3 separate regions of the Homo sapiens genome follow, and regions 1 and 3 are each linked to region 2. Evidence: fine-mapped expression QTL. A gene starts in region 2. Each other region holds a variant in brackets. All regions are shown on one strand. Distances are from middle to middle. Region 1 has its middle 23 kb from the start of CCDC146. Region 2 holds the start of CCDC146 (coiled-coil domain containing 146). Region 3 has its middle 96 kb from the start of SPDYE17.

Evidence for each region. PIP is the estimated chance that this variant, and not a neighbour inherited with it, causes the effect.
Region 1: its variant is the best candidate, but not a certain one, in a credible set for the expression of CCDC146 in whole blood (INTERVAL, PIP 0.64).
Region 3: its variant is the best candidate, but not a certain one, in a credible set for the expression of CCDC146 in tibial nerve (GTEx, PIP 0.72).

What each region holds. Positions count from the first base shown.
Region 1 is chr7:77,097,053-77,102,286 of GRCh38, forward strand. It overlaps the pseudogene FAM185BP. Among named protein-coding and RNA genes, the nearest start is that of CCDC146, 23 kb to the right of the region's middle. The variant G/A (reference allele first, on the strand shown) is at 2,686.
Region 2 is chr7:77,119,788-77,125,021 of GRCh38, forward strand. CCDC146 (coiled-coil domain containing 146) reads left to right here and starts at 2,828. Exons shown (of 19, transcript NM_020879.3): 1 at 2,828-2,945. It also overlaps the pseudogene FAM185BP. RefSeq lists enhancers at 1,617-2,118, 2,119-2,618 and a silencer at 2,514-2,613.
Region 3 is chr7:76,933,305-76,938,538 of GRCh38, forward strand. No RefSeq gene overlaps it. Among named protein-coding and RNA genes, the nearest start is that of SPDYE17, 96 kb to the right of the region's middle. The variant G/A (reference allele first, on the strand shown) is at 2,484.

The sequences.
Region 1 (5,234 bases), 23 kb before region 2:
ATTTAGCAAGGTCACAAGATACAAGGTCCATTTATAAAAATCATTTGTATTTACATATATCAGCAGTAGACAATTAGAAGCAAAGTCTTAAAAACTGTCTCATTTATAACAGTGTTAAAAACACAAATGAATTTAACAAAAAAATGTGCCAGACCTCTACATTGAAACTTACAAAGCAATGCTGAGAAAAATTAAAGAAGACCTAAATAAATGGAGAGAGCTACCTACCATGTTCATTAATTGGAAGATACAATGTGATTCAGTGCAATCCCAAACATAATCAAAACTGTATTTTTTGGTAGAAACTGACTGGAAAATCAAAGGACCTATTATATCCAAAGTAATCCTTAAAAGGAACAAATTTGGAAGACTTCAACTACCTGATTTACAGACTTACCAAAGTTACAGTAATCATGATATTGTGGCACTGGCATAAGGCTCACCAAATAAATCAATGAATTAGGAACAAGAGATCAGACATTGAGCCACACTTATATAGTCATTTGATTTTAGACAAGGATGCTAAAGTAATCCATCAGAGAAAGGAAGTTTTTTCAACAAATGATGATATAAAAAAATTTTAAAACTGACAATAATAAATGTTGATGAGGATGTGGAGCAACTGAAATTCTCATACATTGTTGATGAGAGTATAAAGTGGAACTCTGGGAAAAGGTCTGGTAGTTTATCATAAAGTTAAACATAGAACCTACCTAGTCAACTCAGCAATGCCATACCTAAGTATTTACCCAAGAGGAAAAATATATATACATCCATAAAATGACTTACATTAATATATTCATAGCAGCTTTATTTACAGTTGCCAAAAAATTAGAAATAGCCCAGGTGTCCATCAACAGTAGAATGAACAAATTAAGCCTTCTAATAGCCTGCTTTCACTTCTGAACCCTTCTGGTACATTATGAAATAACAGCTAGATTGTTCTTTTAAAATATAAATTATATATCACTTCCCTAACATCCTGTTGTAGTTGGAATAAAGTCTGAACTCTTACCCTGTCTACAAGGTCCTAAGATCTAGCCTTACTTACCTCATATCCTACCACTTTCCTCATAAGCCAGCCTTCTTTCCCTTGAAAATAGTAAACTTCCATTTTCAAGGCCTGCACTTGCTGTTCCTCTATCTAGGGAGCCTGTATCCAGAATTTTATATAACTCTTTCTCATTTTTCTGGCTTTGGTTTAAATGTACCCTCTCCAGACCACCCCCAATTGCCTAACTGAAGTAGCTTTCTTTTTCCCCAATCTCTATTCAGTTACCCTTTCTTATTTCTTCATTGTACTTACCACAAACTAAAATTACCTTTTGTTATTTATATGCTTGTTGTCTTTCTTCCCAGGGCTCAGAGAAGGTGAAGTCTCTGAGCACAGAAACTATGTCCTGTTGACCAATATGTTCCCTAGTACCTAAAAGAATTCTTAATACATGGCAGGTACTCAATAAATACATGTTGACTAACTAGTTATTGGTATTCACAAGGTTGTCTTCAAATGTTAACACATTTGGAGCCCAATAAACAGTGACATTATTTATATCTTTCTTTCAAGGACTTAATTTAGATATTTGAAGAATTCAAGAAATTTGTAAGATCTTTTTTTCTTTCTTTTTTTTTTCTTCAGAGAAGTTTAGCAAGAAATATAAGACATTTCTTAATACCAGCTCAGGCAATTTTCTTCGAGTGGACATAATTAGTACATTGGTTCTGCCTATATTTGACTTGTGATCCTGTCAAGTTCATCAGTTAAACTGTAGAATTCATTTATTCTAATAAAGTCATCACAAATATACCCATTTTTAAAAGTGGACAAAATACACGAACTAGTAGCTTAGTACGTACCTACTGTGATGTTACCCATCTCGCTTTGTAATGTTATATTACCTGCCAAAAAGAAAAAGATACTTTTATGTACTAGAGACAATCTAGAAAGGAACTGTGATACATAGCAATGCTAAAACATGGATGAATATCTACAATGTTATTTTTGTTGGCAATTTTTCCCAATATCACAAGTCCAGTCAAAGATTGAGCTGTAGTTCTGAAATAACTGGCTTAGGTATCTCTGCAAACCTTCTTTCTCTACTACCAAACCTTAAGCTTTTATAGCATAACTACAAATCACCATAACTGCTGGCACAGAGGAAAAACAATACTTCTAAAACCTGTAAGTGAAAAAAATTACTGAAATGTAGTCACTGTACATTTTCAACCTAAATATCAATGTATTTATCAGACCACACAAAGCGAAGTTTTCAACCAAGTAACACTAAAATATGGTATGGAAAAAAAGAATTACTTTTATTTTTCAGGCCACTTGCCATGTCTATTAAATTAAAAGTAGTTTCTGGGCCAAGAATTAAAGTGGTTTGAGATAGGAATAATGAATACATGGAGGTATGACTAGCAAAACAGAACAAAGAAGCTTCAAAGATTTCCGTCTTAGTGAAAATATGTTTTCCATGATAAGTATGGAATATTGCAACCATTCTTCCCAGCCCCTTTCCCCTAATACCAAAAGTAGTAGGATTATTCTTCATATGTGTGTTTGTACGTGTAAGTATTCCTAGAATCAGGAACTCATATTTATTCTACTGAAAATATAAGCAATAATGTTATCTCTTCTAAAATAATTCCAAAACTACACTAAAAAGTAAAGGAATAACTTTG[G/A]CCTCAGAATTAATCTTCAGTAAACTCATTTTATCTCATTTCATATACCTTATGAATACTGACTTGTATCAGTATCTGGGAAAAACCAAAAAAAGGCACTGGATTCATTTACTCAATAGCCAGATGCGCCTAATTGCAAAAATCCATCTGAAGGTCTAATATACCATCATATTTCCTGTGAGTATATGAACAAGGAGTATATTTGTGTATGAATAAAAACTTGGTTTGTGTACTGAAGCTTATAAGATTACTAATTTTTTTTTTCATATTTTAGATTCAGGGGATACATGTGCAGGTTTGTTACCTGGGTATATTGTGTGATGTTGAAGTCTGGGGTACAAATGATCCCATCACCCAGGTACTAAGCATAGTACCCAATAGTTTTTCAACCCTTGCCCCGTCCCTCCATCCCCCATCTAGTAGACTCCAGTTTCTATTGTTGCCATCTTTATGTCCATAATTATCCAATGTTTACCCCCCACTTATAGGTAAGAACATGTGGTATTTGATTTTCTATTCCTGTGTTAATTCGCTTAGGATAATGGCTTCCAACCGCATCCATGCTGCTGCAAAGGATATAATTTCATTCTTCTTTATGGCCGCATAGTATTCCATGGTGTATATGTACCACATTCTCTTTATCCAGTCCACCACTGATGGGCACATAGGTTGATTCCATGTCTTTGCTATTGTGAATAGAGCTTCAGTGAATATGTTGAGTGCATGTGTCTTTTTGGAAGAATGATTTATTTTCTTTTGTGTATATATCCAGTAATGGAATTGCTGGGTTGAATGGTGGTTCTGTTTTAAGTTCTTTGAGAAATCTTCAAACTGCTTTCCACAGTGGCTGAACTAATTTACATTCCCACCAACAGTGTATGAGTGTTCCCCTTTCTCCACAGCCTCGCCAGCGTCTGCTGTTTTTTTACTTATTTTTAATAATAGCCATTCTGACTGGTGTGAGATGATATCTCATTGTGGTTTTGATTTGCATTTCTCTGATGACTAGTGATTTGGAGCAGTTTTTCATGTTTGTTGGTTTCTTGTACGTCTTCTCTTGAGAAATGAGCAAAATGTCCTGTCTTTTGCTCATTTTTAATAGGGTTATTAGTTTTTTGCTTATTGATTTGTTTAACTTCCTTGAAGATTCAAAGGAACAAAGGATATTAAACCTTTGTCAGATACAGAGTTTGCAAATATTTTCTCCCATTCTGTAGGTTGTCTATTTACTCTGTTCATAATTTCTTTTGCAGTGCAGAAGCTCTTTCATTTAATTAGATCCCAATGAGGCAAGTCTAGGAGGACAGGAATCACATCTTTCTTATTTAGCTTCATACCTGGGAACTTTGCACAGTGCATAGTACATAGTAAACACAATTATTTTGTGAACAAATAAAAAGTTTGGAAAAGTAGGTAAAGAGCAACCTGTGGTAGAACCACAGAGTGCTAAGTCTACTGACTATCCTACACCAAAAAAGTTAGTGAAGAATTTCAAGATGGATAAAAATACAAGAAAACCATGCTTTAAGGAGATTCACCTAGTGTGAGACAGTGGGTGTTTCCATTCTCAGCATTCTCTTTACTGCTTGTTGTGGTTTGAACGTTCCCACAAAAGTTCATGTGTTGGAAACTTAGTCCCCAGTGCAGCAATACTGTGAGGTGGGACCTTTGGGAGGTAATTGGGTCATGAGGGCTCTACCCTCATGAATGGATTAACCCATTCATGAATCAATGGATTAATGGGTCATAGAGGGAGTGGGTTAGCTATTACAAGAGTGAGTCTGTTATAAGAGCCAGTGTGGGTGTCTCTCATGCAGCCTCTCTCCATGTGAGGCCTGTGCCACTTCATGACTCTGCAGAGCCCCTATCCGCAAGAAGGCTCTCACCAGATGCGGCTCCTAGACCTCAGACTTCTCAGCCTCCAGAACTGTAATATATAAGCTTTATAAATCACTCAATCTCAGGTATTCTGTTGTAGCAACAGAAAACAGACTAAGACACTGCTCTACCTCCTGAACAATAAAAGATAGACAGGTCCCTGATATTCGTAACTTTATTAATAAAGAACTATGATAAAGTTTTACAGTCATTTAGCTAGTGAATCCAGTCACCCACTCATCAAGGCAATGGAGCTTTATAGTTTTACACTAGTCTTTAATAATGCAGTAAAAATTTACAATTTTTTTAAAATAAAAATATGGTCTTTCTCAAAAAGCCAATCATTAGTGCTTGTCATGAAAGTGAGGAGGTCTTGAGAAAACAATGATTCTTTGAACCAGAAAAATAGAAGTTTTAGATCTATACAAAATGAGGATTAGTTAATTATAGTGGGACCTATAGAGTCTCAGATAACATTCTTCTTGAATGTTTGAGTTCTACTGTATACTAAAAGCATAATGGAGCAACAACAACAAAAACCCATGGAATTAAGGAATCGTTTCAAATACTGTCTAGTTGTAAGTAACACTTCAAAATATTTTTGTCAACTCTAAATAAAACAGTAAACAAAAACTTATTTTCAACTCATATCAAAATATTTAGAAAATCTC
Region 2 (5,234 bases):
AAATACAATAGCCTTTCTGCCCGTTTTTAGAAACAGAGCAGTTATTTCTACTGGCCTAAATCACCTAAAGAGAACTAACATAGATGGGAAGTAAAGGAGACTACGATTCTGTTAAGTACTCCTGTGAAAGACTGTAGAAGCCTCTTCCCCAGTATATATGATCATGACTTAGGTTTTCAAATCCTATGTCTAACCTTTCATACTTAAAAAATGAAAATATTACCATGCAACTATATCACAAGGTATTTGAAGTAATTTTTTAAAAATGGGAACAACTTTGAAAAACCTAATATATACTATTAAAACTACAAGATTAGGCCATGAGCCGTGGCTCATGCCTGTAATACCAGCACTTTGGGAGGCCGAGGAAGGAGGATTGCTTGAAGCCCAGGAGTTCAAGACCAGCCTGGACAATGTGGCAAAACTCCCTTTCTACAAAAAAACAAAAACATTAGCCAGGCATGGTAGCATGCACCTGTAGTCCCAGCTACTCAGGAGGCGGAGGCGAGAAGATTGCTTAAAACCGTGAAGTCAAGACTGCAGTGGGCCATGATTGTGCACCTGTACTCCAGCCTGCATGGCAGAGTGAGTGAGATGCAGTCTCAAAAAAAACCAAAACAAACAAACAAAAAACCCCACAAGATTGTGGACAAATGGCAGTGGTACATGAAGCAAGTTTGGAAAATAAGGAATTACAAATGCCATCCTTGGCTGTCTATTTAAGATGTAACTGCAGGCATCGCTGTATACAAATTTTAAAAATTAAAAACGCTGATATTTAATTTGGAATTAACATAAATATTGATGATTTCTCTTAAAGTAGGCAAGACCCGCCCCCCCGACTTGATTCCTGAAACCACAAATAGTACCAAATCCTATATATTCTATGTTTTTTCCTGTATACATATCAATGATCAAGTTTAATTTATAAACTAGGCATAGTAAGAGATGAACAACAATAATAATAAATACAGCAATTATAACAATATACTGTAATAAAAGTTATATTACTGTGATCTGTCAAAATATCTTAATATTTTCCTACAACAGTTGAGGCAGGTAACAAACTCAGACAGCCAAACGGTGGATAAGGGAGGACTACGGCATCTACTATTTGGGCAACTGTAAGCATTATAAAAGATGATCTTAAAAATGCTAAATGCTATTATTATTACCATCATCATCATCATCAATATCTTCCTTCAGTCCCAGGAAGAATGACAGTCTGGGGAGCCCTTCCTAGAAAAGTGTGTGTACACAGTGGCTTGCCATTTAGGAAAACCTAAGAAAGGTATCTTGCAGGCATTATTATTGAAGCTTCCTAGGCAGGCTTACCATGTGTTTTTCTTCAAAGCTTGCTACTCATGGAAAACTTAGGCCAAAAAGAATGGAAACATAACAGTAAGAAGCTGGGCGCCCGTCTAAAACCAAATACTCAAACCAGGTGGTACCTGGAACATCCTATTGACAGGGCTGTTTTGGGACACACCCCCAGGCTGTGAGCAAGGGGAAATGTAGATGGACTGCCATACCATTGAATGAATTGTCAAGAAACTTCAACCTTGAAAAATAAGCCAGTTTGCTAATGACAACGGGATAAAGAAGAACACAAGCGGCTCCAGAAATAGAATTTGACCTGGATTATACCAAATCGTGTTTCCATTCGATGTATAAAATTTCTATAATTGGGAACCTAATTTTTTAAATACTACTCGGATACTCAAGAATAGAACAGAGGAAAAGTTGCATTTCCGAAGGGGCCAACTGTAAATTAGGTTTAGAAAGCCAGGACCAATTAAAAGTGCACGTCGACCAAATTTATTAAGTTCACTGTGCGTTCCCTGGGACCCAAACCCGTTTTCACTTCACTTCACTTGCCAAACTTCAGGGGCGCGTTCACCTCCACGGACGCCTGGGGGTGGATAGTATCAGACACAATGGCCATCTCCTCCAGATCCTCGTCGTACTTCACCTGCAGGCCGTCCAGGCCCCGCACGCCGCCCTCCACGCCGCACACCGCGACCAGCACGCGGTCGCCATCCGGGTAGGTGAGGGGGTCCAGGGGCCTCACGGCCAGGTGGCACGGGAGCCGCGCCCGCAGCCGACCGAACGGGCTCACCTGCAGTGTCCACTCCTTCAGAGTTCGGCGCGCCGGGCCAGGCGGAGGGACCTCAGTCTCCGATCCGGGCCAGCGCTCGCCCCTACCTGAGCTGTACGGCCTGGCTTGGCAAGCCCAGCAAGACCAGCGCCCAGCGCCAGCCCACAGTCGGACCTGACGGAGACAGAGACGGAAGCAGCCAAGCTCCCAACCTGAACAGGGGGCAAGCATGGCGCGCCTCTCTCGCCAGTCCTCAGAACACTTCAGCCACAGGGAGGGTCACTTGCCACGGCCAATCGACTTGGCCACTGTGCCGCCTCAAGTCAAATAGGAGACGTAAGTCAGGGTTTGCTGAAACAAGAGCGAGCCGGTTGGCTTGACTAGGCGATGTAAACATCAGCTGCGTAATCCCCAGGGGCAAGTTGGGATTTGAAAGCTCTGAACTCTGACCTGGACCCCTTGCCTAAGTCCACCCCCTTTCGCTAAGGCCGACGGGATACGTAGTTCTAAAGCGGTGGAAAGTCGCAGAGCTCCGCCTCTTAGAAACCACATATCCCAGGAGGCAATGCGCAGGGGAGCACGGGTAAGAGGGCAGGTGTTAGAATCGCTGGAAAGGCGGGCGCCCTTTGTTTCAAGACCATTGGCTATTGGAGGGGCGGTACATGGGAGGCCACTGGCCAATGGGAAGCACGGAAGGGGGCAACGAGGGTAAAGCTGCATGGTCACCTTGGATACCAAGGACGCGACTTCTTGTTTGGAGAGGGTGGAGCTTTGGAGTGAGACCCAGGAGGCCAAATCCCAAAGAGAAAAATAGGAGCCTAAATAAGGATCAGGACCAAGGGAAGGGGTAAGAAACTGCGCTTTTTAAGTTGACAACTAGGTGCAAACTAGGAGTAACCTATGTGGATGTCAAGATCCAAGCTTCACTAACCTAGTGCGGGCATCTCCAGGGCATGGAGAATGCCTTGGTAAGAGAGTAAAGAGCAAGATTGGTGCTTTTTGAGGGAATTGCCTCTTTGGAAGTGTATTCCCTCCTATATTCCAAATATAGGAATAGAGTACTTGCTCCGTCCTGACCCTAAGTGACCTTACTTTGGGTTTTAATTTGCTCACTTTAAAAATGTAGATGATAATACCTTCCTTGCCTTGCCTCAAAGGGTTTTTGTGAGGATCAAGTAAGAAAATGGATGGGACCGTGGTGCACAGTCTACCAAATTACCGTGTAAAGTACTGTATTTTTATTTCAACGTACTTAACATTGATTCTGAGTTACCAAGAAAATTATGAGAGATCAGAACTTGTTTTGAGAATAGCATTGATCTCTTTGACTACAAATGATCATCAGTTTTAGAGTGAAAAAAAAAAAGACACAAAAAAGAGAGTCACCATGGTGCGGTGGAAAGAGCAGGGACAAGGGTCAGATTATTTTCCTGGCTCTGCCACTGCTTCATCTGTGTCACCTAGACCTGTTTCTTTAGTTTTAAAATGAAGAAAGATGGTTCTAAATGACCCTATAAGGTGTGTGTGTGTGTGTGTGTGTGTGTGTGTGTGTGTGTGTGTGTGTGTGTGTGTTTACCTTTTATAATTCTATGGGCAGTAAAATAATGGGAACAGAAAGATTTATTTTCTTCTTTTTTTCTTCTTTCCTGCCTGGTTTCTCTCTCCCCCTCTGTGCCCCTACTTCCTCCTAAAATGTATTCCCTAAATTATTTAGCCAAGACACCTGCAAACACTAACATTTCATAAAATGCAAGTGCCTTAAAAAATTGAAGCCCTTACCCAAGTACAATGACCAGAATTCTTGGGGCTATCGTGATAGATAGACTGGGCTAAAGTTCTCATGGGTACAAGTCTCAGGTTCTCTGCTAGCCACTACCTTTTTAAAATTTTTAAAAATTCAGTGTTCTCTTAAGTTATCATTGCCTCTTTTCTGTCCTTCTAGTCCTTGCTCCCTCCTTATTCTTCTTTCGGTGAAGACTCACTCATTATAGGTGCTAGCTCAGGTTCAGCAAGGGCCCACTGCAATAGTTCTTTTCTTGTCTTTGTGTTTCATTGGTTATAATTATTCAGAATAATCTTCAAACTATTTTTTATGAAAATTGACAGGTGTAACTTTGAAAAGAAATTTGAAAAAGGCACTGGTTTAAGGAAGTTGAGAATGTACTCAAATTTTCTGTAGAAACACTAGACATTTTTAGATTAAATATTAATTCTTAATAGTTAATTCTGTGTCTATGGTAATTTTTCCGTTTCTGAGACAAACTAAGTTAATGGAATTGGCAACTGAACTATAATTTTCTATGTTGCATAATCATTATTTTACTTTTTCAAACAAAAACCAAATAGAATTGACTGAAAATTTACTTTGCTGATCATACAAGGTTGAAAATGGAGAAAATTATTAATATTAAGATTGGTATAAAATAGTTAAAGTTATAGACACTTAAAAACAGTATAATGAGTATCAAATCTGTCCACATATCAACAATGATTAATAAAAGTTGTATCTTCCATCCATATGACATTATAATTGTCAAACCATGTTCACATGCGTCATCTCACTGTATCCTCACTAATTAGGAGGGAAATTATTCTCCTCACACTATAGATGGGGAAACAGATTCAGAAACATTAAGATTAAGCAATTAGAAGGTCTGGCCCTTTTATCACTCTACCAAAACGTCCATTTTCCTGACACCTTTGAAGAAAAAATGAAATTATTCACCTCATAAGTAGAAAATTATATACAACTTTTTTCTCCTTATTTAGAGTTTGTTTCTAAGATATTTTCACATCTTAGTTTAAAAAAGCTATTTCTGTGGTCATGAACATATACTTCTGGTAGGAGTGTTAAGTTAGCACAAAATTTTTAGAGTTCAATTCAGCAATAAGAATGAAAAGCTTTTTCTATGACTCAGAAATTGTGCTTTTGGGGATGTAAGCATAAAATTAGGGATGCTCAAGGAATTATGTTTTATAGGGTTACTTGTAAGAGAAAATAATTGCATCAATTTAAATGCTCCCTGGCCAGGTGCAGTGGCTCATGCCTGTAATTTCAGCACTTTGGGAGGCTGAGACAGGTGGATCACCTGAGGTCAGGAGTTCAGGACCAGCCTGGCCAACATGGTGAAACTCC
Region 3 (5,234 bases), 190 kb before region 2:
GTATAGAAAAAGATCTGGCAGTACACTCACCAAATTATTAACAGTGTTTGATTTGAAGGTGTGACTGAAAAATCAAGACAGCTATTACCTTTTATCAGATATCTTTCCATTACCTGCTAAATTTCATACTTAAAGAGTATTGTCTTTGTCATTGCAATGTTAAAATTTTTATTTGGAATAATAAACCATTCAGAAAACAATTAAATATTTTGATAACAAAGAGTAATAGATGAGGACTATCCTTGACATACATGAAAATACACTATAAGATTCCAATCATTCAATTAGAATGGTATTGATAAGAGAACAGACCTACAAATCATGGAACTAAACAGATATCTGATATAGATTACTTAGCATATGTAAGAAAGTACCACATAACAAAAGAGACCTTTCAAATCAGTGACAAATAGAAGGATATAGGAATAACTATTAGCTTTTGGAAAGACAGGGTAAAACAATGTAAATTTTCACTTTATATATAAAAATATGAGTAGATTTGTGAACATGAAACATAGCACTCAGCACAGAAAACATCATAAATAAAATTTAAAGTCCAATATTGTCTTAGAAAAAATTTTGAACAAACATAAAGACATTAGGTTGAGATCCTTATTAAATCAAGGTCACTAATGAAAAACACTAAAACTCTAGTAAATAGACCAAGCTCTTAAGTATGTAGAACTGATTCAACTATAAACCACCAGTTTGTTTCTCTGATTTAATGGGACAAAAGGCACTTGCAGATGGTTACTTTATACAGAGTGACTCTATGAACAAAGTCTGTGGAATCCACAAACAGCACACTTGCAGAATTTTGAAAAAGCTTTGAGATTGTGGGAGTACTGCCCTTTACATAAACTGAGACTTCCCACATTTATTTTTATTGTAGTTTAAACACAATTCAAGGATGCTAGTTCAATGACAAATCTGCACGAAGTAAACTGGGACAAGAGGTTATTCAATTGCCCAGAACAGGAAGAATTTGTCTCTCTATCATCCCTGTCAATAATAATTAGCCCTTTCTGAAAAGGGTGTTGTAGATACACAGTCAAAATGATCCTTAAAGGGAGGATATAATTTGGCTTACAGAAATCCATTACCAACAAATAACTGCTTGTGGAGGAAATATACAACAAAGCACCACACTTGGAAGTGATAATCACAGTAAATAGCATCCCTAGCCTAGATTGGGTCTTATATAAGAAACTATCATATTGCCAATTAACAAGTATTTTCTCAGTGTGATGACACTTTGAAATGGCTAAATACAAAATTGGGAGGAGAAAAGAAATTGCTTAGTCTCCTCCCTACCCCTCATCCCCTGCCTCCACAGCTCCCCAAACTACACAAGAGAAAACTCAATAATTCTGTAAGAATGATTTTCCTGGCTCAGTTTTATAAGAGACTTAGAAATAATACAACATCAGTTTATAAACCAGACAGGGCTTGGCCTGCTATGTCAACATAGAAAATCAATCCAGGAGTCCCAACCCTGCTTTGTGGCCTTTAGGGCTGCTTCAGAAATCAATTCCCAAGAAGGATAAAAGGTCACTGCCATGGGGCTCAGGAACACATGCCTCAAATTGCCAGCTGCAGAGCTCAATTCCCCCAGGGACTTGGCAATTTCGGCTCTAAATGTGGATTCACAAGGGAGAGCCATCCTGACCAAGCACATATGCTCTTTTGAGGTAGTGGCCATTTTCATGCCGACATTTTTGAGGCCCTATCATGGGTCAGGACTGAGCTGAGGCTTTCCATGCATTGCCTCACTGAATCTCCACAATAACTCCTGTATGAGTCCGTTTTCGCACTGCTGTAAAGAACTGCCCAAAACCGGGTAATTTATAAAGGAAAGAGGTTTAATTGACTCACAGTTTTGCACAGCTGGAGAGGCTTCAGGAAACTTACAATCATGGCGGAAGGCGAAGAGGAAGCAAAGACTTTCTTCCCATGGTGGAAGAAAAGAGACAGCGTGTATGTCAGTGCAGGAAAAACTACCATTTATAAAACTATCAGATCTCATGAGAATTTGCTCACTATCACAAGAACACATGGGGAAACCATATCTATAACCCAATCACTTCCCACCAGGTCTCTCTCTAAACATCTGGGGATTACAATTCAAGAGGAGATGTGGGTGTTGACACAAACCCTAACCATATCAGCTCTTGAGTAGATGCTATCATTATCATCATCCCCCTTCACAGAAGGGCACAGAGGGACTTAGAGCATGTGGCTGGCCAAGGTACTAATCTACCCAGTGAAGTCAGACCTTTTAACCTTTTTCTGGTATGTTTGTATTCATTCACTGGGGCTGCCTTAACAAAGTACCACCGATTGGGTGGCTTATTCAACAGAAATTTATTTTCTCACATTTTTAGAGGCTAGAAGTCCAAGATCAAGGTGGCGTCTTCTGAGACTTCTCTATCTGGCTTGTTTTTTTCCTTTGTCTTCATATGATCTTCCCTCTGTACCTGTCT[G/A]CTTCCTAATCTCTTCTTACAAGGACACCAGTCCTATTGGATTAGGGCCCACTTTAATGACCTCATTTAACCTTAATTGCTTCCATAAAGGTCCTACATCCAAATGCAGTCACGTTCTATAGTATTGAGGGTTATCACTTTAACATATGAGTTGGGGGGAGCACAACTCAGTCCATCACATTCTCTATTATTGTAATTGTTCAGATCCATTTATCTCTTATAAACCAATGATCAAAACCTGTACATCCAACTCTCTGCCCATCCCATAAGAAATACCTGGTTGTGGCTGGAGAAAGAGCTACAATATACTGGCTGGTCTCACTTGGCATGTTCTTGACATTCAGGATAGGCGGAGTGACCCAGCAATCATATAGACACCATCCATTCCAGTGACACTCAAACTTCAGCGTGCATCAGAATCCCTGCAAGGCTTGCTAAGACACAGACTGCTGCGCCTACCTCAGAGTTCCTGATTCATCAAGCTGGAAGTAAGGCCTGAGATTTTTGCATTACTAACAAGTCTTCAGGTGATACCAATGCTGCTGATCTGGAGACTGCCTTTGAGAGCCACTATTCTATCTCTTTCCCAATCAACTGTCCTTTCTCACCTCCCTTTTAAATCTCCAGCACCTGCTCCCTCATGTTCATTCTCAATGCACAATCTTTTTTTCTCCTTCACTGACAGAGGTGAAACAATTAAAAGAGAATTTCCCCAGTCTCTCACTACTGCACCTGCTCACCCTCCCACAAGCACGTGTACTCACTGTGCTTTTCTTGCTGTTTTGAAAGGTGAATTGTCTGTGGTCTTTCTAGAGCCAATCTCTTCACATGTGCACCAGATTCCAAGCCCTGCGGCCCACTCAAGGGCATCCCTGCATGTCTTCTCCCATCTCTTACCTTGTCAACTCTTTCCACTTTTTGAGTCATCCTCCTCAGCACAAAAGATTGTTACTCATTTATCTTAAAAAGCAAAAAAACTAAGCCAACAAAAACAAGAAAAAACAGAAATAAAACCTTTTACTGGACCCTCTCTCCCTACCAGGTATGACTCCATTTCTCTTTGCCTTTGCAGAAAAACATTTAGAAAGGGGGTCTGTATTAATTCTATCCAGTTCCTCTCCTCTCATTCTCTCACAGACCCACTGAAATCAGGTCTTAACTCTCAACAAAATTGCTCTTACTGAGGTCTCAGATAAACTTCAGGTTGCTAAATCTCATGGCTCACATTTGGTCCTCTCACATTTTACGCCCCTTGACAGAGATGACACCACTCCTTGATACTTTTTTTTTTTTTTTTTTTTTTTGGCTTGTAAGGCTTTCTAATTCACTGGTTGCTAGTCTCAGAACTTTGTGAATGATTTATCTTTGCTTATACCTCTTAGTCCTGGACTGACTTGCCCCAGATTGTAGTTTCTTTTTTTATCCACTCTCCTTCCTTTGGGGATCTCATCCAGTCTCCCTCTGTATGCCCTTTGTTGCCAAATTTACATCTCCAGCCCTGGATGCTCCTTTGCCTCAGACTCCAAAACTATATTCAAAGTCTCTCATTTAGATCATTCAAACTTTTCAAGAGTGACTCCTGATCTTCTCCCAAATATCTGAGCTGCTCAAAGCTTTCCATCTCAGTAGATGAAAAATTCACCCCTCTAGTGCTTAGGTCAAAAATCTTTGAGTCACCCTTGTTTCCTCTCTTTATTACTCCCCCCACTGCACATCCGATTCACCAGGAAGTCTTCCTGTGTTTACCCTAAACATAATTCAGAGACCAATTACTCCTCACCGCCTCCATGGCTATCACTTTCGTCAGACTTGCTACATTTTAGCAATCGTCTTATAACTGTTTTCCTATTCCCACCCTTGCCTCCTTCCATTCTATTGCCCACAAAGAAACATAAGTGATCCTTTTGAAACATAAGTCAGATCACGGCATTTCTTTCCCAAAAAGAAATGCAAGTGTCTAAATTCTTCGCCTACCTCAGGGTAAAAGTCCAAGTTCTTATATGGCCTTTAAAGACCTCTGTGTACTCTCCTCCTCCCTCCATTAGTTCTCTGATCTTCCCTTCTTCTTTTCTTCCTCATCCTACTCTGCTCCAGCCACGCAGTCTTTCTGGCTATTTCTTGAACATAGTAAACATGATCCCTCCTCTGAGCTTTGAGTTGTTTCCTTTGCCTGGGAAATTCCATCTGGAGACTTCCGGGCTTGCTCACCTATATAGGCAAGTCTGTACATGAGACCTGCTCTGACCACTCAATTTAAAATGGCAGCAAAATCCTTCCTGGCACCCCACCTTTAAAATGGCAACAAAAGCCTTCCTGGCACCTTTCCTTTCTAGCTTTGGACCTATTACATAATCTATGTATCTTTTGTGTTATCATCTGCCTTCCCCGCCAGTATGTAAACTCCACAAAGGTTGAGATTTTTGTTTGGTTCACTGATGTATCCCAAGGACACAGTTCAGTATCTAACTTGCAGTGGAAACTCACCAAGTATTTATCAAATTATTTGATAAATGAATGTGATGATAAATGAATGTGACTGTAAAATGATACTTTATAGTCACTGGAGAAATCAGTCTCTGACATCCCCAGGAACAAAATCAACATTCTTTGGAATAGTCATTGATAAAGGGTTCATAACTTTTTGTGCCATGGACTTCTTTGGCAGTCTGTAGAAGCCTATGAACCCCTTCACAGATTAGTATTTTTAAATGTACAAAATAAAATCAATAAACTACAAATGTAGTAAATTAT